7 linked regions of the Homo sapiens genome follow. The protein of the gene in region 1 interacts with the protein of each later gene in a pairwise test. Each region holds a gene or a part of one and is shown in the gene's direction. Other genes may lie near its edges.

Region 1 (3,500 bases):
TCTCTACAAAACTTAGCCAGGCATGGTGGCACGCACCTGTAATCCCAGCTACTCAGGAAGCTGAGGCATGAGAATTACTTGAACCCGGGAGGCGGAGGTTGCAGTGAGCTGAGATCATGCCACTGCATTCCAGCCTGGGTGACAGAGACACTCCGTCTCAAAAAAAAAAAAAAAAAAATTCATAATTCTACACAGGCATACTTAAAAAGGGCACTTTTTAAAAGTTTCTTTCTGTCAATTCCAGGTTGGAAGTGTATCCTCCCTTCTTATTTTTTCTAGCTGTTGGAGGTGTTTACCACCCGGTAAGTTTTCCAGGAGGTGTTCATCTATTTGGATAGTAGTTCACTGAGCTATTATCAGGGACAGAAGAAGGAAATAAACATTTAATGAATATCTTCAGTGTCTAGGCACTGCATATTTAAAAGGATTTTATTCAATTATTTCTTACAGAGTTCTTTAAAGGAGATGGGATTTTCCTCATATTTTACAGATAAGGAAAAGCCTCTCATATACTATTTAAACTTCACAAGGTCAAATAGCTACAGAGTAGAAGGATTAGAATTTGAACTCAGGTCTGTCTGGTTCTAAGTTTCATGTCTATAAGAGTTCATTTGTTATAGTAATTCATTCACACAACAAACTTTCACTCACCACCTGGGGTAAAGCAGTGATCAAAGCAGACAAAGACCCCTGGTTTCATAGAGCTTGCCTTTTTGTTGTGGGGTGTGGGGTGGTCACAGAGAAGAAGCAACCTAAGTAAATTACATCATGTGTTAGGAGGTGGTGAGTGCAGAGAAGAAAACAAAGTGGGGAAGGTGGAAAGGGGATGTGGAGTGGGATAATTTTGAATAGGGTGGTCAGGGAGGGGGGCTTTGCTGAGATGATAGTTAAGCAAGTATAAAAGGAGGTGAGGGAGCAGGTGCTGCACGAGTTTCCCCAACCTCCAGCCAGAAGACAAGCAAGGCCTGAGGCAGGCACCTGTCTGGTTTGTTTGGTGAGCAGTGAGAAGCCAATGGAGCCAGGAGAGGGGCAGCAACAGAGGGCAGAGGGGTGATGAGGCAGGTCACTGGGGACTTGCAGGCCTCTGCAGTATAGATAGCCCTGTGGGATGGAGATTTAGTCTGCACTTAAACATATCTAAATAAAGCAAGTTTATCAGCCTCTAATTAATTGCCATTTGGGTCTTGTCTTAGACAGAAGTGTTCCCCTTTTCTGAGGACAGATTATCTCCTGAAACCAAGTTCTGACCAGAGTGGCCCTTCAGACTTCTGGTTCTAAGCCTTTCCTAACCATCTGGTTCATCCTGAATGCCTTGTACTTTTGTTAAAAAGCTGCCAGAATGGCATATCTACTGCTTATGACCTTGAAGGCCTGCATTTTTTTCAAAGAAACATCTACTGCTCTTGTATCTCTTAGAAAATGTATCTTTCTGGTGCCTCTAAAGATCCCCATTCCTAGCAAGTGACTAGACTAGCTGATCTGAATAGCTCAGGTCTCTAGATTAGTCCTCATTTGGTGTCCCCACTCCATCCCCATTCCTATCACACATCCCTGGATCCCATTCCTTATGGGTAGTTCTGAAAAATAAGAGCTAGTTTGGGGACAAGCACCTAACAATTGTTCCTAGGTTGCCAGTCATTAGGCAACATTATAGTAAAGAAGGGCCTGGCAGAGACTAGAGCTGCTATATCGTGACTTGAGGGACTGGTGTTATTTTCATTTGTTTCACCCTCCTGTTGACATTTAATGTTACCCAAAATCAACTCAAACAAACAAAAACCCTGATGCAGTAACCTTATCCCTAACAGTAGCACTGCTGAGTGGGAAAGACACTGGGGAAGGCGGCCTTCTCACATGCTGTCTTCTGTGTTCTCTCCTTGCTTATTTTAACCAAGGAAGTCACCCCAGCATGACAGCCAAAGGGATGGATTTTTCATCTAAGTTTTTATTCTCTCTTCTCAAGGACATTGGGAACAGGGAGACTTTTCCCTCGAAGACCATGTATTCTGGGAGAAGCGCTCCCCTTCTTTCTAGTGGAGCTACACCCCCAGTGTAGCCTGCAGAACCACCTGAGCCCAGCCCTGCCAGTGACTGACTTCACATAGAACAGCAGCTGAGTCTTCAGTCAATCTCATGCTCAGAGGCCCATTTGAGAAAACGGCATTTCCCCTAGTCCTGACTTTGGGGCAGTTCTCTTTTCTGGCCTGCCCTGAGACCGGCTGGCCCACATGTCCTTCTCTTGAGCTCTGACACAAGTTCCCCAAGATGCCCAGGGCAAGTGGGGGGATTCCTTCTATCCCACCTGTCTAGGAGAAGGCCAATACTCATCTCCCAGGTCCACAAGCCAAGCCATTCATAGAAGAATCACAGATATTTTATTTTCCCGCTGAAACTAACTTAATTCTACCTAATTTGCGTGGGGAGTAGTTGGCCAAATCATCAAATTGTTAACTTTTTGCTAACATATTGTGTAATCAACCCTAGGTGTTAAAAAAGGTTTGCTTGTTTCTTTCATGCAAATACTAATGTAGCCCTTTTTTCTTAGCGTATAGCTTCTGGCCTGGGCTTGGCCTGGATTGTTGGACGAGTTCTTTATGCTTATGGCTATTACACGGGAGGTTAGTATATATTGACATTTGCCAAGGAAACAACTTTAAAATTTTAAATCCTATGCTGGCCAGGCACAGTGGCTTACACCTGTAATCCCAGCACTTTGGGAGGCGAAGGCAGGCAGATTGCTTGAGCTCAGGAGTTGGATACCAGCCTGGGCAACATGGTGAAACCCTGTCTCTACAAAAAATACAAAAATTAGCCGGATGTGGTGGTGCACACCTGTAGTCCCAGCTACTTGGGAGGCTGAGGCGGGAGGATTGCTTCAGCCCAGAAGTTTCAGGCTGCTGTGAACCATGATTACACTACTACACTCCAGCCTGGGAGACAGAGCAAGATCCTATCTCAAAAAAAAATAAAATCTTATGCTACTATATTTTTTTTCTTGGGAATTTGAGAAAAGGGGAAGTCACCTGATATTTAGGTGAAAGGTCTGTTTTCTTTTTATTAATCTTTCAATTGTAACGAAACTTATTTTTATTGAGCATTTTCTATGTGCCAACCACTACTCTAAGAACTTTGCATATGTTATTTAACCTTACAACAATTCTGTAATACAGATATTATTGCATTTTACAAATTAGGAAACTGGGACTCAGCATGATTAAAGCTGTAGGTCACAGAGCTACTAAGCGTAAACTAGTAAACTAGGAATCAAACCCATGCAGTCCGACTCCAGAGCCTCACCATTACTATACCTCCTATATCTGAGTAAGGAGGAGGAAAAGCCATTTTTAGCTGTACTTCTTTGAAACAGAGGGAACTCCTTCCAAAGGTCCTAGAGCAAAGTTGCTGTAATTATTATCCCATAATTTTCTAAGATCCAAGCAATACTACTGTGGCACGTTACTTGGCATGTGGTATCTGACTTGCCAACAGCTTCAGGCTAA
Region 2 (3,500 bases), on another chromosome or scaffold:
ATGCCTAGGTCAGTACTCCAAGACACCCAGTAGAAAACAGCAACTGAAAAGCCAAAGAGCTGATCAGAGAATTCAGCAGCTCCTCAGTGCTGGGGAGACAGAGATTTGAGAGGCCTTGGTAAATACCTTGGTCTTTCCATTGAGACAACTGACTAGCAACCAAGAGAAACAATATACAATAGAAATAGACCCACAGGTGATTCAGAAATTAGAGTGATTGGATAGGAATTTTTAAAAGGTAACTATAATTAATATCTTCAAGAAAAAAGGGAAAGGATGAGAACTTCAGCAAAAACCTGGAATTCATAAAATAGAGTCAAATGGAAACTCTAGAACCAAAAATCGCACTGACTGAAATGAAGAATTCAGTAAATAGATTTATAGCAGATTAGAAGCAGAACAGAGAATTAGTGAACAAGAAGACAGTCATTTGAAAGTATCTGGATAAATATGCGATAAAAAGAAAGAAAAATACAGAAAAACACCATAAGAGATGTGTGGGATATGGTGAAAGATCTAACAAACATGTAATTGGAATTACAGAAAGTGGTGGTGGGGGAGGAGAGAGAGAGAGAGAGAAAGAAAATAGGAAAGATGGAATAGGAAAGACAGAATAGGAAAGATGGAATAGGATGGAATAGGAAAGATGCAGTAGTTAAAGAATTTCCCCAAACTGGCCAGTCACGGTGGCTCACGCCTGTAATCCCAGCACTTTGGGAGGCCGAGGCAGGTGGATCACCTGAGGTCAGGAGTTTGAGACCAGCCTGGCCAACATGGTGAAACCCCATCTCTACTAAAAATACAAAATTAGCAGGTGTGGTGGTATGCGTCTGTAATCCCAGCTACTCAGGAGGCTGAAGCAGGAGAATTGAACCTGGGAGGCGGATGTTGCAGTGAGCTGAGATCGCCCCATTGCACTCCAGTCTGGGTGACAAGAGCGAAACTCCATTTCAAAAAAAAAAAAAAAAATTCCCCAAACTGATGAAAGACATCAAGATTCTTTACAAAATCAAAGCAGGATAAATATGAAGGACATTATATCATTGTACGTTATAATCAAACTGCTGAAGACCAAAGACAAAGAGAAAAAAATTTAAAGTAGTCAGAAAAATACAATAAATTTTTTAGTGAGTGACAGAATAGCTACCATTTATTGAGCACTTATTGTATAAAAGACACTGTGCTAAATACTTGATAAGCACTATTTCATTTCCTTTTTACCATTGGGAGGGTATCATTATTATCCTCACTTTAAAAATAAAGAATGGAGGCCAGGCGCAGTGGCTCATGCCTTTAATCCTAGCGCTTTGGGAGGCTGAGGCAGGTGGATTACTTTGAGACCAGCCTGGCTAACATGGTGAAACCCCATCTCTACTAAAAATACAAAAATTAGCACGGCGTGGTGGCATGTGCCTATAATCCCAGCTACTTGGGAGGCTGAGGCAGGAGAAACGCTTGAACCTGGGAGGCAGAGGTTGCAGTGAGCTGAGATGGCACCACTGCACTCCAGCCTGGGCAAGAGAGTGAGATTCTGTCTCAAAAAAGAAAATAAAAAATAAAAAGAAAGGAAGGAAGGAAGAAGGGAAGGAAGGAAAGGAAGGAAAGTAGGAAAGGAAGGAAAGGAAGAAAAGGAAGGAAGGAAGAAGGGAAGGAAGGAAAGGAAGGAAAGTAGGAAAGGAAGGAAAGGAAGAAAAGGAAGGAAGGAAAGGAAAGGAAAAAAGGAAGGAAGGAAGGAAAGGGAGGAAGAGAGCGAGGAAAGAAAGAAAGAAAGAAAAAGGAAGGAAGGAAGGAAAGAAGACTCAGAGAAGTCAGATAACATACCCCAAGTCACACAGCTGAGAAGCAGAGGAGCTGGGCCTTGAACTCCCATCTGCCGGGTTCCGAGGCTCAGGCCCCTCACTGCTGTGCCACCCTGTCCCTTCAGGACAGATCCAGAGTGTTGTGACTTATGACCTGGCTCTGGACTCCGGCCGCCCACATTCCCGCGCCGTCTTCAATGAGACAAAGAACAGCACACGCAGACAGACACAGGTCTTGGGGCTGACCCAGACTTGTGAGACCCTGAAACTACAGTTGCCGGTGAGCAGGCTAGTGGCCAGACCCCTGGGTCTTCCAAGCATGGAGTGGGCTTGGGGAGCTGAGGAGGGCAGATCCCCAAATCCCGGCTATCTCTTAGAATTGCATCGAGGACCCAGTGAGCCCCATTGTGCTGCGCCTGAACTTCTCTCTGGTGGGAACGCCATTGTCTGCTTTCGGGAACCTCCGGCCAGTGCTGGCGGAGGATGCTCAGAGACTCTTCACAGCCTTGGTGAGTCCAGAGTTGGGGTCCTGCAGGGGTGTGGAAGAGACCAGAGACCAAGGTGGTTGAAACTCATTTTATTTGATTGCATCTAATTTTACTTCAACATTTGATTTTATTGTTTAATTTCACAATACTTGGTTATTTTCTTTCCTTTCATTTGATCATATTTATTTTTTAAAAGTTTCCCTTTGAGAAGAATTGTGGCAATGACAACATCTGCCAGGATGACCTCAGCATCACCTTCAGTTTCATGAGGTGAGTTTCCTTTCCTCCTCACCTCCTCCAGAGAAGGACCCGTACCATGACCCGCTCTTTTCTCCTCCTGGCCCCCAAGGGAGCCGGGTGTTCCTGGGCTATAAGGTCCGGTGTGGCTGCCCCTCCACTGTTGTCTCTTCATCAAGTGTCTGCGTCTCTGTTCTGCTGGAGCAGGCTTGCCACAGGGAAGCCCAGCGCCCCATCCCCCGGCCTGTCTTCTTCTTCCCACAGCCTGGACTGCCTCGTGGTGGGTGGGCCCCGGGAGTTCAACGTGACAGTGACTGTGAGAAATGATGGTGAGGACTCCTACAGGACACAGGTCACCTTCTTCTTCCCGCTTGACCTGTCCTACCGGAAGGTGTCCACGCTCCAGGTAGCCACATCCTTCTCAGGCTCTATCTGACCTTTGCTTCCCCATCCTCACGGCCGGAGGTGGATATCACCGCCTTTGCCTCCCCTGCCTTCCAGAACCAGCGCTCACAGCGATCCTGGCGCCTGGCCTGTGAGTCTGCCTCCTCCACCGAAGTGTCTGGGGCCTTGAAGAGCACCAGCTGCAGCATAAACCACCCCATCTTCCCGGAAAACTCAGAGGTCAGAACTCCTGGCTCCTCCCCTCCTTTTCTCTTTGATTTCTTTGGGGATTCTTTTCTTCTTCTTCTCTTCTTTAGTAGTGGTTCCTTTTTGTACAAAACAGCTTTATTGAGATATAATTCATATACCATCCAATTCACCTATTTAAAGCATACATTTCAAGCCCGGCACAGTGGCTCATGCTTGTAATCATAGCACTTTAGGAGGTCGAGGCAGGAGGATCGCTTGAGCCCGAGAGTTTGAAACCAGCCTGGGTGACACGGCGAGACCCTGTCTCTACAAAAAATGTAAAAATTAGCTGGGCGTGGTGGTGCACACCTGTAGTCCCAGCTACTCGGGAGGCTAGGGTGGG
Region 3 (3,500 bases), on another chromosome or scaffold:
AGCACAGCTACAGATTGCTTCTTATAGAGGCCAAGTTTCCTGGCAGCAATGCTTTAGTTCTTGGAAAAGGAAGTTCTGCTCCAAATGTTAGCTGCTTACTTTGTTTGGCTTGGGCTTCTGAGGCTCATCTTTGGTGTGACACTCTTTGAAGGCCAAGAAAGGGCTGTCATTTCAGGGGATGGTGGGTAATAGGACTCACTCCTTTTGTGTCTCTGAGAACAGAGGCAAATGCCTCTACCTCGATTTTCCCATGACAGAGATAATTTGATCTTTCCAAATCTGTTCACACTGATGCAATTCAGCCATGTAAATCACTAGGTATTCATGCTCTCTGGGCTAAAAACAAACTGTAACTAATGTTAACAGAATCAGGAAAAGGAGTCCCCTTTCCCTGGTACCCTATAGAAAAGTGAGTGTGGCTTGGAGAAATGCTTGAATACAAAAATCCAAGCCTAAGTAATTAATACAATTTATTTTTATTGTACAAGCTGTCACAACCTGCTTATTCAAAAATAGCAGCTTCCCAGTACATTTGCTGAGTATTTGTGTGTGTGCATGTGTATACTGTGTTTATAGATATATAAAATCAGTGGGTATATATACATATATTTATATATATACATACATATGAATTAAGACATTTTTTCTGAAGAGCTTAACATTCTCATTTCTTCTACATTTTAGGGATCTGGCCGAGAGGCCAGAGGAAGCCATTCTTTTCCTCATCTAGTCAGTCATCTACTTGGCATTTGCTAAGGTTCACTCCATATGACATCTTAGAGCATGGGACTAGTACTTGGAACACAGCTGCTTTCAGAGCCTGTGACTTCTTGTGTGCCTCTCCTGTTTCTCAGCAACACTGGCATAGGGCCTGGGATACCAGGTCTGGGGATCTCAGGGACTCTTAGCACTTTAAGACACATGTGTTCCCAGGCCCTGGTGTGTTCCTCTAGTGCCAGAAAGATGTTTCATGCTTTGCTGACTTTGTATAAAGTCTGTTTGTAGCTGTTTTGACAGAATCTCAGCGTATAACTGAGGGTGGGGACATTAGCCAAGCTGCATTATAGGAGGACAAAACTGCCATACAAAGTGTCCAAAATCATTAAGCCTGCATTTTTATTATTGGGAGTAATATCAAACCTCCTATTTTCCAATTTTCATTTCTTGTCCTGTGCTAGCTCCATCCTGTTTGGACTGCTCCTCCCATATGTAAACTAAGAAGAATCAAGCATTCTTTGCAACAAATACACACGATGCTCAAAAATGTCCAGGAGCATCCAATTTCCAAAGTTTCCTCCACCTGGAATGCTCTTCATGCTAAAATCCTGTCTGACAATACCAGCATCTCTGGCCTGCACTCATCCCTTCCTGGAACTCCAAGTGCATTTACCCTCTGTTACCACTTACTTGGCTGCCTGAATTGTTAGTTGAAAATATTAGGTCTACTTAGCTAATTCTTCCTCAGGAAATTAAAGACTCCCATATGGCAGAGTCTGTGTCTTTTCTCTCTTCATATCCCGTATAACACCCAGCATAATGCTGGGCATATAGTGAGTATTCCATAAATAGTTGATGAATGACTAAAATAAGCAAGCAAACAAACAGACTAGAACAATAAGAAAGAAGGGACTGATTTCATAATCTCTCTGGCTTGCTATTTGAATTGCTGAATTATTATTATTTATTAAATATTTTTTAAATTCTGGCAATAAAAGGTAAGGATTTATTTTCTTTCTTTCTTTTTTTTTTTCTTGAGACAGAGTCTCGCTCTTACTGCCCAGGCTGGAGTACAATGGCGCAATCTTGGCTCACGGCAACCTCCGCCTCCTCCTGGGTTTAACAGATTCTCCTGTCTCAGCCTCCTGAGTAGCTGGGATTACAGGCATACGCCCATGCCCGGCTAATTTTTGTATTTTTAGTAGAGACGGGGTTTTGCCATGTTGGCCAGGCTGGTCTTGAACTCCTGACCTCATGTGATCCACCTGCCTCAGCCTCCCAAAGTGCTGGGATTACAGGCATGAGCCACCGTGCCCGGCCAAAGATTTATTTTCAAGAATGAAACAAAGTAAGGATTCTGGGTCAATCTCACATGCTGAAAGCCAAAACCTCTAGCCGCTCCTGCTTTTTGACTTCGGAGTGCCCACTATCTCCGAGCCTGTGAGCACAGGGCCTGGCAGAGGGGTTTGAGTGGCATGAGCTACCTACTGGATGTGCCTGACTGTTTCCCCTTCTTCTTCCCCAGGCTTGTTAGAGTGCTGTGCAAGATGTCTGGTAGGGGCCCCCTTTGCTTCCCTGGTGGCCACTGGATTGTGTTTCTTTGGGGTGGCACTGTTCTGTGGCTGTGGACATGAAGCCCTCACTGGCACAGAAAAGCTAATTGAGACCTATTTCTCCAAAAACTACCAAGACTATGAGTATCTCATCAATGTGTAAGTACCTGCCCTCCCACACAGACCCATCTTTTTTTTCCCTCTCTCCATCCTGGAGATAGAGAACTCTTCAGTACCTTAGTAACTAGCAGGGGACTGGGGTGGAGCCAGACCGGATTCCCGAGTCTTCCCTCTGTGCAGATCTCTCCTGCTCCACATTCGAAGCCCATTCAGAAAGGAGGGGTCTGCCTGCCTGCCTGTCAGCCCCTCCCACCCCCGCCCCCTTGTTTTCTTACACGTGTTCTGACTTCTGCTAGGTGTGGTTCATATTGCCCAAGTTGGAGCCTCCAGCGTAGTAGGTATGGAGAAGCCAAGGGAGGCACTAAGCCTCTCCTGTTCCTAGAACAAGTTAGGCTCCTGTTCCTTCACCCACCTTTCTTCTTGTCTAGCTCCCTACTCCTGTGAGTTAGCATGTCTGAAGGGTGGGGCAGGGAGAGTAGGTCCCTGGTTCTCCAGGTCCCAGGGTAAGCAAGGTGTGGCGGGAGGGGCATATGTTTCTGGTCACATACACCCTGTCTTCACTTATTTCAACAAAGATAAGGTGAAAGCATGCAGGAGGAACCTGGTGATTCCTCTAGAAAATCCCTAGCCTTGTTAAGGTGCTCGCTCTGGTGTATACCTCACTTATGTCGGGAAAGAAGCCAGGTCTTCAATTAATAAGATTCCCTGGTCTCGTTTGTCTACCTGTTAATGCAGGATCCATGCCTTCCAGTATGTCATCTATGGAACTGCCTCTTTCTTCTTCCTTTATGGGGCCCTCCTGCTGGCTGAGGGCTTCTACACCACCGGCGCAGTCAGGCAGATCTTTGGCGACTACAAGACCACCATCTGCGGCAAGGGCCTGAGCGCAACGGTAACAGGGGGCCAGAAGGGGAGGGGTTCCAGAGGCCAACATCAAGCTCATTCTTTGGAGCGGGTGTGTCATTGTTTGGGAAAATGGCTAGGACATCCCGACAAGGTGATCATCCTCAGGATTTTGTGGCAATAACAAGGGGTGGGGGAAAATTGGGCGCGAGTCTGTGGCCTCGTCCCCACCCAAGGCTGGGTCCTCTCTAGGGGCCTGGCATTTGA
Region 4 (3,500 bases), on another chromosome or scaffold:
GGGTGGGGTGTGTGCGTGTGTGTGGTGTGCTGTGGGGAGGTTCCTGGGGCGGGCTGGGCTGGCAGGTGTGGGGTGTTGTGGGGGGCCTGCTTGGCGGGAGGCTTCTGGAAGGGCTAGGGGTGGAGCCTCTCCCAATCTGTGGATCCCAAGGAGGTTCGCCCCATCGAGCCCTTCCCAGGCCCTGCCCAAGCCTGAGGCCTCACCCTTCCCCCAGGTCTCCTGAATCTCTGCCTTCGATGGCAAAACCCTGCAGTTTGGGAGTTTGGGGGCAGCTGTGCTGGAGATTCTGGGGTGCTGGGGGCAGGGGTTCAGCAGGGCAGATGCCCCAGCCTCGCCCTCCTCTCTGGACTCCCCCAGGTGTTCGTACTGGCGTTCACCTTCCTCATCCTCTTCCTCGGCAACTTCCTGACCACGCTCAAAGTCGTGCATGCCAAGCTCCAGAAGAACAGAGGCAAGACAAAGCAGCCGTGAGCCTCGGGCTCCTGTGCCCTCGGCCCGGACTTCAGACTGCAGGGGGCTCCCGGGCTCCTTCCCAGCAGCCCTCTCAGGCCCGTGGCATCGCTGGGAGAGGGCCCAGGCCCTGGTCCCCCAGTGGACCCCAGTGGTCTAGAGGAATGTGAGCCCCGCCTGTCCGCACAGTGTCCGCCCACCTATTTATGACATATTTAATGCTGGGTCCCCCATCGTCCCTGGAACCCGAGGCCTCACTCCTGTGCTTGAAGGTGGCTGAGGCCGGGCCAGTCTTCCTGGGGATGGGGCCTGAAGCCTCAGGGAGCCCCTCTGTTCCCACTCCTGTCATTTGAACCCCTCTGGGTGGGGTTTGGATGTGCCTCGCGGGGTTGGATTTATGCTGACCTGCTACTTACCAGGCCCAGGCTGGGGTGGTGTGAACCCTCAGTGTCCTGTGGCGCCCCCACCCCGGGGCCACTCTGCTTCTGCTGTGAGCCCCCTCCTCGCCCACCCCGCCACGTGGTGAGGGTTATTTTAAGTTCTCAGAGACCCACCGCGTCTGCCTCGTGCTCTTCTTGCCCCTGGAGCGCTGGGGGCATCCTGAGTCAGGCTGTGAGAAGATTCGCCACCAGAGGGCGCCCCGGGCCCTGGGTCGTCCAAGGGGACAAGGACGTTCCCGTCTGTGCTTCGGGGTTCCCTGACCCCCCCATCCTGCAGCCCACCTTCCTGCAGTGTCGTGGCAGGTACTTGGAGAGTGGGACCAAGACCCTTGGCCCCTGTGGAGGGGAACCACCTCCCCCCTCCTTCCCAGAGCTTCTGGATGTTGTGGGAGGGAGGTGGGGGTGCCTGGCAGGCTCACCCCCAGGGGCCGCACCCTGAGGCGGGGTCAGAGCCACTGGGCATCGCTTGGGTGAGATTCTGCATTCGACGGGAGGCAGAGAGGCCACCAGGTTTGGCTGAGTGCTCTGCCCCACCATTCATATATGGGCCTCAGCTCCCCCTAACTGTGGCCCTACAAATCCCTAGGCCAGACCTCACAGCAGTGCCCACAGGCATGCCTTGTTTAGCCCTCCTCAAGGAATTTTAAAATTTTTAATTACTTTTTTTTTTTTTGAGACAGGGTCTGTTGCCTAGGCGGGAGTGCAGTGGCATCATAGGTCACTGTAGCCTCCGCCTCCAGGGCTCAAGGGATCCTCCCACCTCAGCCTCTGGAGTAGCTGGGACCACAATCACACACCACCATGCCCTGCTCCTTTTTTTTTTTTTTTTTTGAGATGGGAGTCTCGATCTGTTACCCAGGCTGGAGTGCAGTGACACAATCTCAGCTCACTGCAACCTCTGCCTCCCAGGTTCAAGTGATTCTCCTGCCTCAGCCTCCCGAGTAACTGGGACTACAGGCGCGTGCCACCATGCCTGGCTTTTGTTTTGTTTTGTTTTGTTTTGTATTTTTAGTAGAGACAGGGTTTCACCATGTTTGCCAGGATAGTCTCGATCTCTTGACCTTGTGATCTGCCTGCCTCAGCCTCCCAAAGTGCTGGGATTACAGGTGTGAGCCACCATGCCTGGTCACCCTGCTACTTTTTAATACTTTTTAGTAGAGATGGGGTCTCACTATGTTGCCCAGGCTGGTCTCCAACTCATGGGCTCAACTCATCCTCCTATCTTGGCCTCCCAAAGCGCTGGGATTACAGGTGTGAGCCACTGTGCCTGGCCTGATTACATTTTTAAAATGAGATTTCCCCACCCCTACAGTGAGATTCCACATAAAAATCCAGATTTCTGCTTTCCCTAGAAAAACGGACCTGGCAACATTCCCGTGGCACAGGACGCCTACTCTCCAGTTGCCACAGGCCCTGCCACCCCCCTGCCCTTCATTCTGGTCTCCTTTCTGGTCCTTTTTAGGCACCTGCGTTTGCCCTAGATTAGGAGTCAGCTAGCTGTCTGTAAAGGGCCAGATGGCAACTATTTTGAGCTTTATGGGCCAGGTGGTTTGTGGCAGCTACTCTTCACCTGCAGCCCCAGAGCACAAGGCAATGCAGAAAGGAATGGGTGTTGCTGTGTTCCAATAAAACTTTATTTACAAATCAGGCTGTGGCCAGATGTGGCCCACAGGCTGTAGTTGTTGGACCTCTACCGTAGACCATCATGAGGCCTGGGGTTCTTCGAGAACAAGAACTCCTTGGTTGATTCCCCAGGGTACGGCAGGGCCTTGGGAACCTGGGTGGGTTGGGGAGGGTCTCAGAAGGCTCCTTCCTTTGGCAACCTGACTTCTTGGAAGCTCAGGTTTAGCTGACGCCCCAGCACTGGGCCAGGGGGGCTGAGGCAGGAGATATGGGGAAGGCTAGGAGTTGCCTGAAGCCATTATCCCATCTTAGGCGACACCGACTCCTAGGCGCCCTCCAGAGCCAAGCAGCTTGCGACTTCTGGTAGGCACCGGAATCCCCTGGGATGCTTGTTTTAAAAGTCCTGGGCCGGGCACGGTGGCTCACGCCTGTAATCCCAGCACTTTGGGAGGCTAAGGCGGGTGGATCACGAGGTCAGGAGTTCAAGACCAGCCTGGCCAACATGGTGAAACCCTGTCTCTACTAAAAATACAAAAATTAGCCGGACGTGGTGGTGTGCGCATGTAGTCCCAGCTACTCAGGAGGCTGAGGCAAGAGAATCGCTTGAACCCAGGAGGTGGAGCTTGCAGTGAGCCAAGATCATGCCACTGCACTCTAGCCTGAGTGACAGAATGAGACTCTGTCCCAAAAAAAAAAAAAAAAAAAAATTCCCAGACCCTCGGCCCCAGACCTTCCCAAAGGAGGCTCAGGGATTAGGTATCTGGCTGTTGGTGACACAGGTGGTCTATGAACCAGTTCTGAGAAACTGTCCCGCGTGGACAGGGGGTAGATCCCATCAGTTCTCAAAGGAGGCCAGGATGTCTCGCCTCCTGAACTCCACAGGCTGGTAGAAGCGGGGCTTGAGGGACAGCAGGTTGGGAGCTTGAGGACTAAGTGGGCCAGTCCTGTCCTACCACAGTGGGGGGAACAGTCCACAGAAAACTTGCT
Region 5 (3,500 bases), on another chromosome or scaffold:
AAAAGAGAAAGAGGGAGTCAGCCCTGGACACATGTGGTCATCACAGACACAGCAGACACTTATCTACAAAGACACACAGAGGCACACAAAACCAGGAATCCCCCCATGTCCACGTGTGAACACCCATGGAGGAGTGACACTCTGGAGCCCACATAGGTCCCCTCACTGCCCAGTGCTGAGTCTTGGAGGCACTGGGGTGGGCAGGGCAGGCCTCGATGTCTCCTATCCCTTGAGAACGAAAGCTCAGAGCCTCAGTCAGGCCTGGCTCTGGAGCCTGCTCTTCCCCAAGGCCAGGGCACCAGGGTGCCCAGGCCAAGTCAGGGGCCCCATGCCTTGGAAGCCACCCTGGTTGGCCTGTCTATGGGTAGCAGGGAGTGCTTAGAGCACATTGCCTGGAGAGATCATCCCTGGGCTGCCCTAGAGCCAGGACACACTGGCAGCCACAGAACCACCTTCTGCCAGCTCCCAAGTCCAAGCTGGGAATAGCCAGGTCCCTTGACTGGGCCTAGGAGTGGCCAGCCCATTGACCTGTGAGTGTAGGGTGGCACAGACTATGGGGCAAGGATCCTGGCTTTGCTGCATCCTCCCTGGGCCTCAGCCTCTGCGTCATCATCTCACTGAGCCATCGCACAGGCTGCCCTCTAGGGCTCCCAGAGGCTAATGATTGGCCCATTGTTTCCCAGCTAGAAAGTGAAGAAGACCGCCCTGGGTCCGGAGAGCATCTCTGGAGCCAGGCTGCCCCTAGCAAGGGTGGGAGTTCTAGAAAATTAGCATTCTCTGCCACTTCTATCAGCACACAGTAAGCCTCCCCTCAGAGGCGTGGGCAGAGAAATGGCAGAGGTCCCCCACTCTGTCTTCACCGAGCTCCCAGGCCAGGAGGAGATGCACCCACATAGGCCGCAGGAAGATTGATTTCCTACAAGATGCACAGAGAATTCAGTGAGGGCATGGTGGGTGGGAGCAGAAGTTAATTCCAGCCAGGGATCTGGGAAGGCTTCTAGGAGCTGGTGGGGTCTGAACTGGGCCTTGAGTAGTGGGCTTACAAGGGCTTAGCACAAAATGGAGAGCTTGTATCTTTCTGACACTTCAGAAGAAATGTGTGGATTATTCTTTCGGTAATACTTGCATTCACAAAACCCAGGGCTGCAGACAAAAGCGGGAAGACAATTGAGAATTGAGAATTGAGAATTGTTCTGATTCTTACTTTTTTTTTTTTTTTTTTGCCTTAATAAGACCTGGGCCAGGCAAAACTACCTGGGGATGTGCAAATATATATGTACATATATATAAAACAAGTGACTACAATGGGAACTGTCCTTGTTTAAGCAAGTTTTCAAATTTAATGGGTTGTAAACAGTAACGTACATTTGAAGTATTTTACCTGCTCTTTCCTGGACATTGAGTTTCAACAGGCCTTTGAGTGCCCCTTCCAATTCTGAATTATCAAGTGTTTCCAGATGTAAATAATGCAAGTGTATTAGATAGTTGAAGGAAGGTTGTCAGTAGATGTTGAAGCTATCAGGGGAGGCTTCCTGGTGGTAGTGGTAGTGGGTATTGGAGAGGAAGGCTGTCAGCCCATGTGGTTCTCAGCAGTCACGAAGGCACATTCCAGAATTCCCAGGGCAGGTGGCTGACCCCTCCCCTTCCCAAGGACTCAGAGTACAGGGCCTGGAACTATCACCCTCTGCTCTGCCCACTTTGCATGAAAAGCATGTTGTCTTTGGGTAGGGGCTGGGGCTCTCGCACCTGGTTAAGAACCAGAGGAGATGAGCTCTTTCTGGTCACATCTGTGAGGGATGGGGCTGGGAGGGTTCTCCAAGGCGGGAGCCACTTACAGCGATGACTCCATTAATCATCGGGGAAGGGCTGGTTTCAGGACTTCTGCCAGCTAGCAATTAGGCCAACCCTGGAGAGCAGAAGAGAGAGGAATAGAAGGAGCCACGAGCTTCCTGAGGGCTCAGATACAGAGGGACAGGGGCCTCACAGGTGCAAGTGTGGGTGGGCATCAGGACTAGCCGGGCTGGCCTCACCAGCCTCAACCCCATTCAGCCTGTCCTAACTCTGGGCAGGCTTCTGCCAGCAGCTCCACCCGCCGTCACTCCTTCTGCCTGTCCCCAGATCCTGCACACACAATGAGAAGAACCAAAACAAGAGTCACTACCACTGCCCCATCCCTCCTGCGTCGACAACTCTTTCCAAAAGCCCTGAGACGGCCCCTTTGGCCTTTGAACCTCCCAGCTGCTCTGGAGAGCAGGCACGGACAATGAGATCCATTTTGCAGATGGGAAGACTGAAGACCAGAGGGAATAGGCCATGCTCATGGTGCCAGAAAGTAGAAGAGTCAGAACCTGAACACAGGGCTTCTGCCTCTTTGGCCCAACCTTGGGACAGAAAGGGAACTGGGCATTGGCCAGAGGGCTGGCGGACCTAAGGGATGTAGCCCTGGGGTCCGCCAGGAAAGGCCCAAAGCTGGGGCTGCAAGGCAGGGGAGGGGATGTGAGTCATTCCCTGTAACCCAGGGCTGCAGACAAAGGCGGGAAGAGAATTGTTCTTGTAGGATGGCCTCAGGGTGGGGCTGGGAAAACCTCCAAGGTGTGCCCCCCTACCTTGGATTTTGCAAAATTCTCTATGGCCTTGGAGACACTCCCATATCCTGAGGATGGGAGCTGGGTAGTTTGTCTCCCAGCTGGGAAGTGTTTGGGTGCACCAGCCCTGCCTGGGAGAAGGCAGCCTAAGTGGCCTCAAGTGGGCATCTTTGCAAGTGAGCCTTTGCTGATGTGGTCCATCTCCCCTGTGTGAGTGCACTTAGCCCCTGGGACGGCCACAAAGCATAGTGGAAGGTGCTGGGGCTTCCTGGGGAGGGGTCCTCCGGGGGCAGCTGCATGGGGAGGGCCTTCATGACCTCACAGCAGCTTCCATTCCCTTCTCTTTCCATGAGTCATGTTTCTAAAAGTGGCCCAGGAGTAAGTGGCAGCCAGACGGTGGTGGCGGGGCCTATCTGGCCAGGCAGAGGGAGGGTGAGGCTGAGGCCAGCAGTGGGGAGGAAGAAGAGAGAAGGAGAGACAGGGAGGGCAGGGCCAGAAGCAATGGGAGACAGGCCTTGGACCAAGGAAAGAGACGGGGTGGAGAAGGAGAGAGAGAGGGTGGAGACAATAGGGAGGCAGGCACAGAGGAGAAAGAGGGGTGGAGGGAGCCAGGACCTCACCGAAGGCCTCCTCAGCCCTGGAATTTAGATGCAGTCGGGCATGGGGTGGAATGTTCTGGACTTTTGGGTATGAAGCCGTGTCCCCTGCTGGGCCTTCCCACCTTTTTGCATCTCTTCTCCTAGGAGTGCTCCTGACCATCACCTTCATGCCTGGGGCTCGCCCCTTGCCTCTGGTCTTGGTACCCCAGAATACCCTGGCCTGGATGCAGCTGGATGCAAAGGCCCCAGCTCACCCCAGGCCTCTCCAGCTTCTAGGCAGAGTGGGGCCTGGGTCTAGGCAGGTATTAGGGGCTGG
Region 6 (3,500 bases), on another chromosome or scaffold:
TCAAAAGGTGGAGAACACATTCCAGGCAGAGATAGAACAACATGTGCAAAGAACAAAATCACAAAAGGGAATGGAGTATTTATGGAAAGGTGACATGTTTCATGTGACTGAAGTACAACTTACCAGTGTCAACGTAGGGGATGACTCCTGTATATGCTTCATGATAAACTCCTGGCCAACTCCCTCCTTTCCCATGTTTTGTCTCAAAATAATTTTTAAAATTTCTGACCTTTTAAGACCACTTAAGCCCAAAAACCTCACAAAACCATATGTTCAAATAGGAATTACCAAGTCTAATTATTATTCCTTTCTTAACTGTATTCTGCTACACATCTTCATAAAAGGTGACTACTCGGCCAGGTGCAGTGGCTCACGCCTGCAATCCCAGCACTTTGGGAGGCCGAGGCGGGTGGATCACGAGGTCGGGAGATCGAGACCATCCTGGCTAACATGGTGAAACCCCGTCTCTACTAAAAACACAAAAAAATTAGGCATGGTGGCGGGCACCTGTAGTCCCAGCTACTCGGGAGGCTAAGGCAGGAGAATGGCGTGAACCCGGGAGGTGGAGCTTGCAGTGAGCCGAGATCGTGCCACTGCACTCCAGCCTGGGCAACACAGCAAGACTGTCTCAAAAAAAAAAAAAAAAAGTGACTACTCAAATATAAATAAAATCTTCCCATAATTTTCCAATCCACTAGATCTACAATAAGCAAATATCAACATAAGCAAATATCAACATAAGCAACTTAAAGGATGAATCTCAATAAAGAACAAAAGAAAATCTATTTATATTTTACCTGAAGAATTCAAACAAAAGTCATTAAATATATGTCAAGTTTAAGCTGCTATGTCCCTTATTTTTAACTTTTGTTTTAAGTTTGGGGGTATGTGTGAAGGTTTGTTACACAGGTAAACACATGTCATGGGGAGCTTGTTGTATGTATTACTTCATCATCCCGTTATTAAGCCCAGTACCCAACAGTTTTCTGCTCCTCTGCCTCCTCCCATCCTCCCCGCTCAAGTAGACCCCAGCGTCTGTTGTTTCCTTCTTTGTGTTCATAAGTTCTTATCATCTTGCTCCCACCTGTAAGTGAGAACCTGTGGTATTTGGTTTTCTTTTCCTATGTTAGTTTGCTAGGGATAATGACCTCCAGCTCCATCCATGTTCCCGCAAAAGACATGATATCATTCTTTTTTATGGCTGCATAGTATTGCATGGTGTATATGTACCACATTTTCTTTATCCAGTCTGTCACTGATGAGCACTTAGGCCGGTTCATGTCTTTGCTATTGTGAATAGTGCTGCAATGAATATTCATGGGTGTATGTCTTTACGGCAGAAAGATTTACACTCCTCTGGATATATACCCAGTAATGGGATTGTTGGGTCGAATGGTAGTTCTGCTTTTATAAGCTGCTATTTTCTAAGTAGAAGTGTTATAGACAACCTAAATAACAGCCTTTAGCCACCTGTTTAGACAATGAAGAATATATGCTAGAAAAATACAGGTAGTTAATAACTCTTTAAGGAAAGAAAATTTGATAGAAGTTGAGTGTTTGGAACTCCTTGCTACAGACCAATATTATGAAGGGGGACAGAGTCTCAAGCCAAAAATGCCCAGTCTACTATATAATTCAGAATATAATAGACCCAAGTTGAACACTACAGAATCTAAACACCATAAACCATATGGTTTCTTTGCCAAAGTAAATGCCGGGTTCTAACTAGTCATGCCTGATACTTACCTTCCCCTTTGCCATTCTTTCAGCACTTCCTTCTGCTCCCTTCAGCACTTTCCTCTCTCAGGAATGGGCTAACAGGTTGAGATGGGCTTTTATGGGATGTATAAAAGGACTTAGGAGAAAATAAAATCTGACACCTGGGGTAAGGTAGTAATATGTTGATTAACAATAATATATCAACAAATGTTAACAGTCACTATGTCTGGCAGTTAATTACTGACTTTTTTTCTCCGTTTTTCATTTTTCTTATTTCAAAATTGACACATAAGTATACTGATTGAAAACAAAATGTCCCCAAGTGTTAATAACGATTATCTCTGGACAGTTAATACAGTTAATTTTCAGTCTATATATAATTTTTCTGTAATGACATGTAAATTCTTATTTTATTAATCATCAAAGTATAGGCCCCACAGGCAGCAATAGCTTGTGGGATCTCTGAAAGAAGGCATGATGGAAACTACTACTATTAAGTAGAAGTCTGTAAATAGGATATGTCTGTGGTAGTGAGATAATAATAATTACTATGTGTTCCAAGCTTGACAGTCTTCAGTACTTAACATCAAATCTTATTAAAATGTTACTTAAGATAACATTCTATAAAACTATAAAATCATAAAAAGGAATAACAATTTGAATCTATATTTTTGGTAAAACACTTCCCATTTAACACTATTTTATTTTAGATTAAAATTAAGATCCAGGGAACAATTTGTTGTATGCATTTCCTTTTTATGAGATTGGCTCTGGAGCTATTAATACAGTGACTGATCAAACCAATTACATCTACAGAGTAACAGATTTAAAGAAACTATATGTTAGAACTTTTACCCAAAAGAATAACCCAAAACAAGCTGTACCTTAAACCAAATACAGCAGGTCCTCAAATAACATCATTTCTATGTCATTTTGTTATAACATTTAAGTATGTGTGGGGCTTGCATATTCTCCCCACATCTGTGGGACTCTGGTTTCCTCCCATATCCCAAAACAGTGCACATTAGGTTCACTGGCATGTTTAAGTTGTCCTGGGTTGAGTGTGAGTGTGTACATGAGTGTATCCTGTGATGGAGTGGCCTCCTATCCAAGGTGGGTTCCTCCCTCCTTGAGCTGCTGGGATTGGCTCCAGCCACCAGCACCCCAAACCAGAATAAGAGGGTTGAAAAATGAATGAATGGATGAATACAAATTATTATCGAATAAAAATTGGTAAAGTCTACGGTGATCATACAAATGCATGACAATAAACGCTATGGCACAAAAGCACTCAGAGATCCCACCGTATTTGAATTGTTTTTGATCTGCATGGAGCTGGATGTGCTCCTGACAATTTTCATTTCTCAAACATGATTCCATGTTTTTAATAGACCACCACAACCACTGTTACTCACTGATTCACCAAATACTGGGTAATTATCTTTGTTGGCTTTTTTTTTTTTTTCCTGGGACAGAGTTTTGCTCTGTCACCCAGGCTGGAGTACAGTGGCATGATCTGGGCTCAATGCAACCCCTGCCTCCTGGGCTCCAGCGATCCTCCCAAGTAGCTAGGATTACAGGCACATGCCACCAGCCTAGCTAATTTTTATATTTTTAGTAGAGACAGGGTTTCACCATGTTGGCCAGGCTGGTCTCAAACTCCTGACCTCAGGGGAACTGCCCGCCTTGGCCTCCCAAAGTGCTGGGATTACAGGCATGAGCCACTGCACCTGGCCTATCTGGTTTTTATTAATCTTTCTTAAATGTATACATAGTTCATA
Region 7 (3,500 bases), on another chromosome or scaffold:
GTCTGGTGATTCCCTGAAAACCCCCACTTGAGAAGCTGTTTCTGTTTGACCTGACTCTGAGCTCATCCAGTGCAAATAGTCTTTCTCCCTGGGGATGTTTGTTGAAAATAATTAGAGATGATTGATTAACATCATGGCTGTCTGAGGCAGTAGATAACAGTTAGGGAAAACAACAGGCTAACCAAAAAACTGGAGACTGAAATGTCCATAAGTTGCTTTGAAAAGCTCCAACATATTCCTGGGAATCTAGGAGGCCACATGCATGCACAATGCTATATGCATGCTCAGGAAAGACCTGAGAAGGCCCTAAGCACTCTCTGCCTTATCTTGAGACTCTGTTCAAGCAGGAAGTGAAGGCTAAGGCAGAGATGTGGGTGGCTTAGCTGAGCATGAAAGTCATATGCACAGAGCCCCTCAGTAAAGACTGGGAGAGGCATTGTTGCCAAGCGTTTTAGGAAATTTATAATTGGTCACTAAGCTAATTGAACAGGGATCTCAGTGATCACACATGACAAAAAACACATACTTTACCATCTTAGTTCAAAAAAGTCACTAAACAAACAACGGGAACAAATCTTCAAGAAGGGGGAACAACTGATTTCCAGAGTTGCCACATTATATTGTTTAAAAAATACTGGCTGGGTGTGGTGGCTCACTCCTGTATTCCCAGCACTTTTGGAGGCCAAGTGAGAGGACTGCTTGAGGCCAGGGGTTTGAGATCAACCTGGGCAATATAGCAAGACCCTGTCCCTACCAAAAAAAAAAAAAAAAACAAAAAAAAAACCCCACAAAATATCCAGGAGTGGTGGCATGTGCCTGTAATTCTAGCTACTCCCAAGGCTTAGGTGAGGGAATTGTTTGATCCCAGGAGTTAGAGACTACAGTGAACTATGATCATGCCACTGCACTCCAGCCTGGGTGACAGAGCAAGACTCTGTCTCTAAATAAATAAATACATACATAAATAATACAAGACACACAAAGAACTAAAATGATAAGGGGCATACATGGGGCAGGGAGAAGTCAATAGATCTGTAAGGAAGCCAGATATTGGACTTACTAGACAAAAACTTTAAATCAGCTATAGTAAATATATCCAAAGAAAAAACAATCAAAACAATTAAAGATGAAAATGATGCCTCATGAAATAGAAACTATCAATTAAGACACAGAAATTATTTTTAAGGACAAAATAGAAATTCTGGAGTTGAAAAGTACAATAACTAAAATGAGAAATTCACTAGAGGGGCTCAATGGCATATCTGAGCAGGCAAAAGAATCAGTGACCTTTAAGATAAGTCAGTTGAGATTAGCCAGTCTGAGGAACAGACAGATAAAAAGAATAAAGAAAAATGACGAGAGCCTCGGAGACTTATGGGACACCATCAAGTTTATGTAAAGGGAGTCCCAGAAGGAGAGGGAAAGAGAGAAAGGAGCAAAAAAGGTATGTGAAAAATAATGTCCAAAAGCTTCCCAAATTGGATGAAAAACGTTAAAAATCGACAAATTTATGAAGCTTAATGAACTCCAGGTAGAATAAACTCTAAGGGATCCACATCTAGACACATGATAATCAAACTGTTGAAAGATAGAGACAGAGAATCTTAAAAACGGAAAGAAACAACTCACCACATATGAGGAATCCTTAATAAGATGAACAGCCAATTTTTCCCCAAATCTATGGAGGCCAGAAGGTGGTGGGATGACATACATATATTAGCTCACCTAATCCTCACAGAAACCTCCGTGAAGGCCATGCTATTATCATCATCCCAATCTTACAGATAAAGAAAATCAACCACTGAGAGTTGAGATATTTGACAAGGTAACACAGGTGATGAGCAGAGCAGCCAGGACTCACACTCAGACCCTAACATTCACCGTTTTAGTCAATACATTAACTACTTTACAACAACCCAGTGAGTGGGTTCTTATTCTACAGGTGGTTCTTATTCTACAGGTGGGTCTCATTCTACAGGTGGTTCTCATTCTACAGGTGGTTCCTATTCTACAGGTGGTTCTCATTCTACAGGTGGGTCTCATTCTACAGGTAGGAACAGGGAGGCTGAGCATAGCCTTCCCCAGGCTAACCAGCTAACAAATAGAGGTTCTCCACTCAAGTCTTGAATCCAGAGCCTCCTTTCCCTCCAGTTCCTTCTCACACCCTCTATTGTGCATGAAAACACAGCTCCTAAAAGCTCTGACCCAAGTGAACACAAGGAGTCCAGCTTTTGACATGGCATAGTTTGAGGGCAGCTGGACCAGAAGCTGGTGCAGTGGAGCAGACTTCTCAAGGTCCCACTTAGTCTTAAAATGTTGGAGGCTCAGTGGGCAAGAGTTGTCTAATTTTTCCAAATTAGACAGTCTTAGACTCCAAACAGTCTTAGAAGGACTTCCATGTACAAGATCAACATCCAAGACCAATTCCAATGCCTCCAGAATGAGAGTAGGAGCCTCTCCCAAAGGAGAGACTATGTGTTCTGAAAGTCCAAATGAACCCGCAAAGAGGCCATCCCCTGCCCTTGGGCTGGGTGAAGTGCTGCTTCTTTCAGACTCTGCCTCTTTAGGGCAAGGAGGCAGGTTGCCCCAGGGCCCACTTTGCCTAGTGCCCCATTTTCCCTACTGGTCCATCTTCTCTCAGTGCGGGAACTGGGATTGTATAAAAGAGCATGATACTACTGACCCCAGGAATTTCATGGGCTCACTTCACCACCCACAGAAGTCCATGCCAGAGGCCTAGGCCAAAGCCAGGCTTCTCCCATGGAAGAGCAGTGCTCTGAAGCTCTAGGGTCAGGTCTTGGAGATTTCCAGCCCATTTTATAAAATTCTTCAATCAGAGATGTGGAAGGAGACACAGCCCAGAGAAACCACTGTTGGGAGCTGATAGAACTTCTTTTACCAAAAGGCTAAAAACAACACTGACATCAATGCAAGTTAGAGGCTTCCTTGCACCCCTAAAGTACCAGTTTCTTTGGTTTTGGACAAATCCACAAAGTATCTTTGAATATATGAAAGTCTCCATGGACAGTCACTTGGCACACTGATACATTCTCAGTGATAACCCAAGGCATCCACTAATCCTGCCAGCTGTTCCAACTATCAAAGAAAGATCCCTATTAACTCAAGTTCAGCTTGGAGCTAAATGTGGCTTCTGCTCTAATTCTTTGAAACTGGCACACTACACATGGTTCTGCACAGTTACTGATGCCCTTAACCAGAACACTGGGTTAGCCAGACTATTCCATCCCCCAGTCAAGTCTGAGAGCTGAGTTCACCATATTTTTAATAAATAACCCATTTAATATTTTTAAACCGCTGAGTCTTACAGAAATAAGGAGATTAAAATCAGCATAAGCCATCTGCAGAGACAAAGGAGAATGGCACGACCTCAGAGTTCCTAACACCCCAGATCATCATCCTGGCATTGGAATCTTTGCTGACTTAGTCGGAAGCAAAGCTGCAATCCCTGAGCTTTGTGTAAGTGTGATGGAAGCCAGGGC

Evidence for each region.
Region 2: the proteins of MGST3 (region 1) and ITGAM interact in binary tests that used the Homo sapiens proteins (3 or more experiments, as listed by UniProt).
Region 3: the proteins of MGST3 (region 1) and PLP1 interact in binary tests that used the Homo sapiens proteins (3 or more experiments, as listed by UniProt).
Region 4: the proteins of MGST3 (region 1) and TMEM120B interact in binary tests that used the Homo sapiens proteins (3 or more experiments, as listed by UniProt).
Region 5: the proteins of MGST3 (region 1) and AQP1 interact in binary tests that used the Homo sapiens proteins (3 or more experiments, as listed by UniProt).
Region 6: the proteins of MGST3 (region 1) and PLN interact in binary tests that used the Homo sapiens proteins (3 or more experiments, as listed by UniProt).
Region 7: the proteins of MGST3 (region 1) and CACNG1 interact in binary tests that used the Homo sapiens proteins (3 or more experiments, as listed by UniProt).

The regions. Positions count from the first base shown.
Region 1 is NC_000001.11:165,651,734-165,655,233, forward strand, and holds part of MGST3 (glutathione S-transferase 3, mitochondrial), read left to right. Parts: intron 1-244; coding exon 245-302; intron 303-2,545; coding exon 2,546-2,618; intron 2,619-3,500. UniProt on the Homo sapiens protein: Displays both glutathione S-transferase and glutathione peroxidase activities toward oxyeicosanoids, as part of cellular detoxification as well as synthesis of bioactive metabolites.
Region 2 is NC_000016.10:31,322,475-31,325,974, forward strand, and holds part of ITGAM (integrin alpha-M isoform 2 precursor), read left to right. Parts: intron 1-1,924; coding exon 1,925-2,079; intron 2,080-2,176; coding exon 2,177-2,308; intron 2,309-2,483; coding exon 2,484-2,557; intron 2,558-2,788; coding exon 2,789-2,930; intron 2,931-3,025; coding exon 3,026-3,148; intron 3,149-3,500.
Region 3 is NC_000023.11:103,783,340-103,786,839, forward strand, and holds part of PLP1 (myelin proteolipid protein), read left to right. Parts: intron 1-2,242; coding exon 2,243-2,429; intron 2,430-3,125; coding exon 3,126-3,387; intron 3,388-3,500.
Region 4 is NC_000012.12:121,775,252-121,778,751, forward strand, and holds part of TMEM120B (transmembrane protein 120B), read left to right. Parts: intron 1-357; coding exon 358-471; 3' UTR 472-3,500. UniProt on the Homo sapiens protein: Necessary for efficient adipogenesis. Does not show ion channel activity.
Region 5 is NC_000007.14:30,918,353-30,921,852, forward strand, and holds part of AQP1 (aquaporin-1), read left to right. Parts: intron 1-3,500. UniProt on the Homo sapiens protein: Forms a water channel that facilitates the transport of water across cell membranes, playing a crucial role in water homeostasis in various tissues.
Region 6 is NC_000006.12:118,554,796-118,558,295, forward strand, and holds part of PLN (phospholamban), read left to right. Parts: intron 1-3,500. UniProt on the Homo sapiens protein: Reversibly inhibits the activity of ATP2A2/SERCA2 in cardiac sarcoplasmic reticulum by decreasing the apparent affinity of the ATPase for Ca(2+).
Region 7 is NC_000017.11:67,047,554-67,051,053, forward strand, and holds part of CACNG1 (voltage-dependent calcium channel gamma-1 subunit), read left to right. Parts: intron 1-3,500. UniProt on the Homo sapiens protein: Regulatory subunit of the voltage-gated calcium channel that gives rise to L-type calcium currents in skeletal muscle. Regulates channel inactivation kinetics.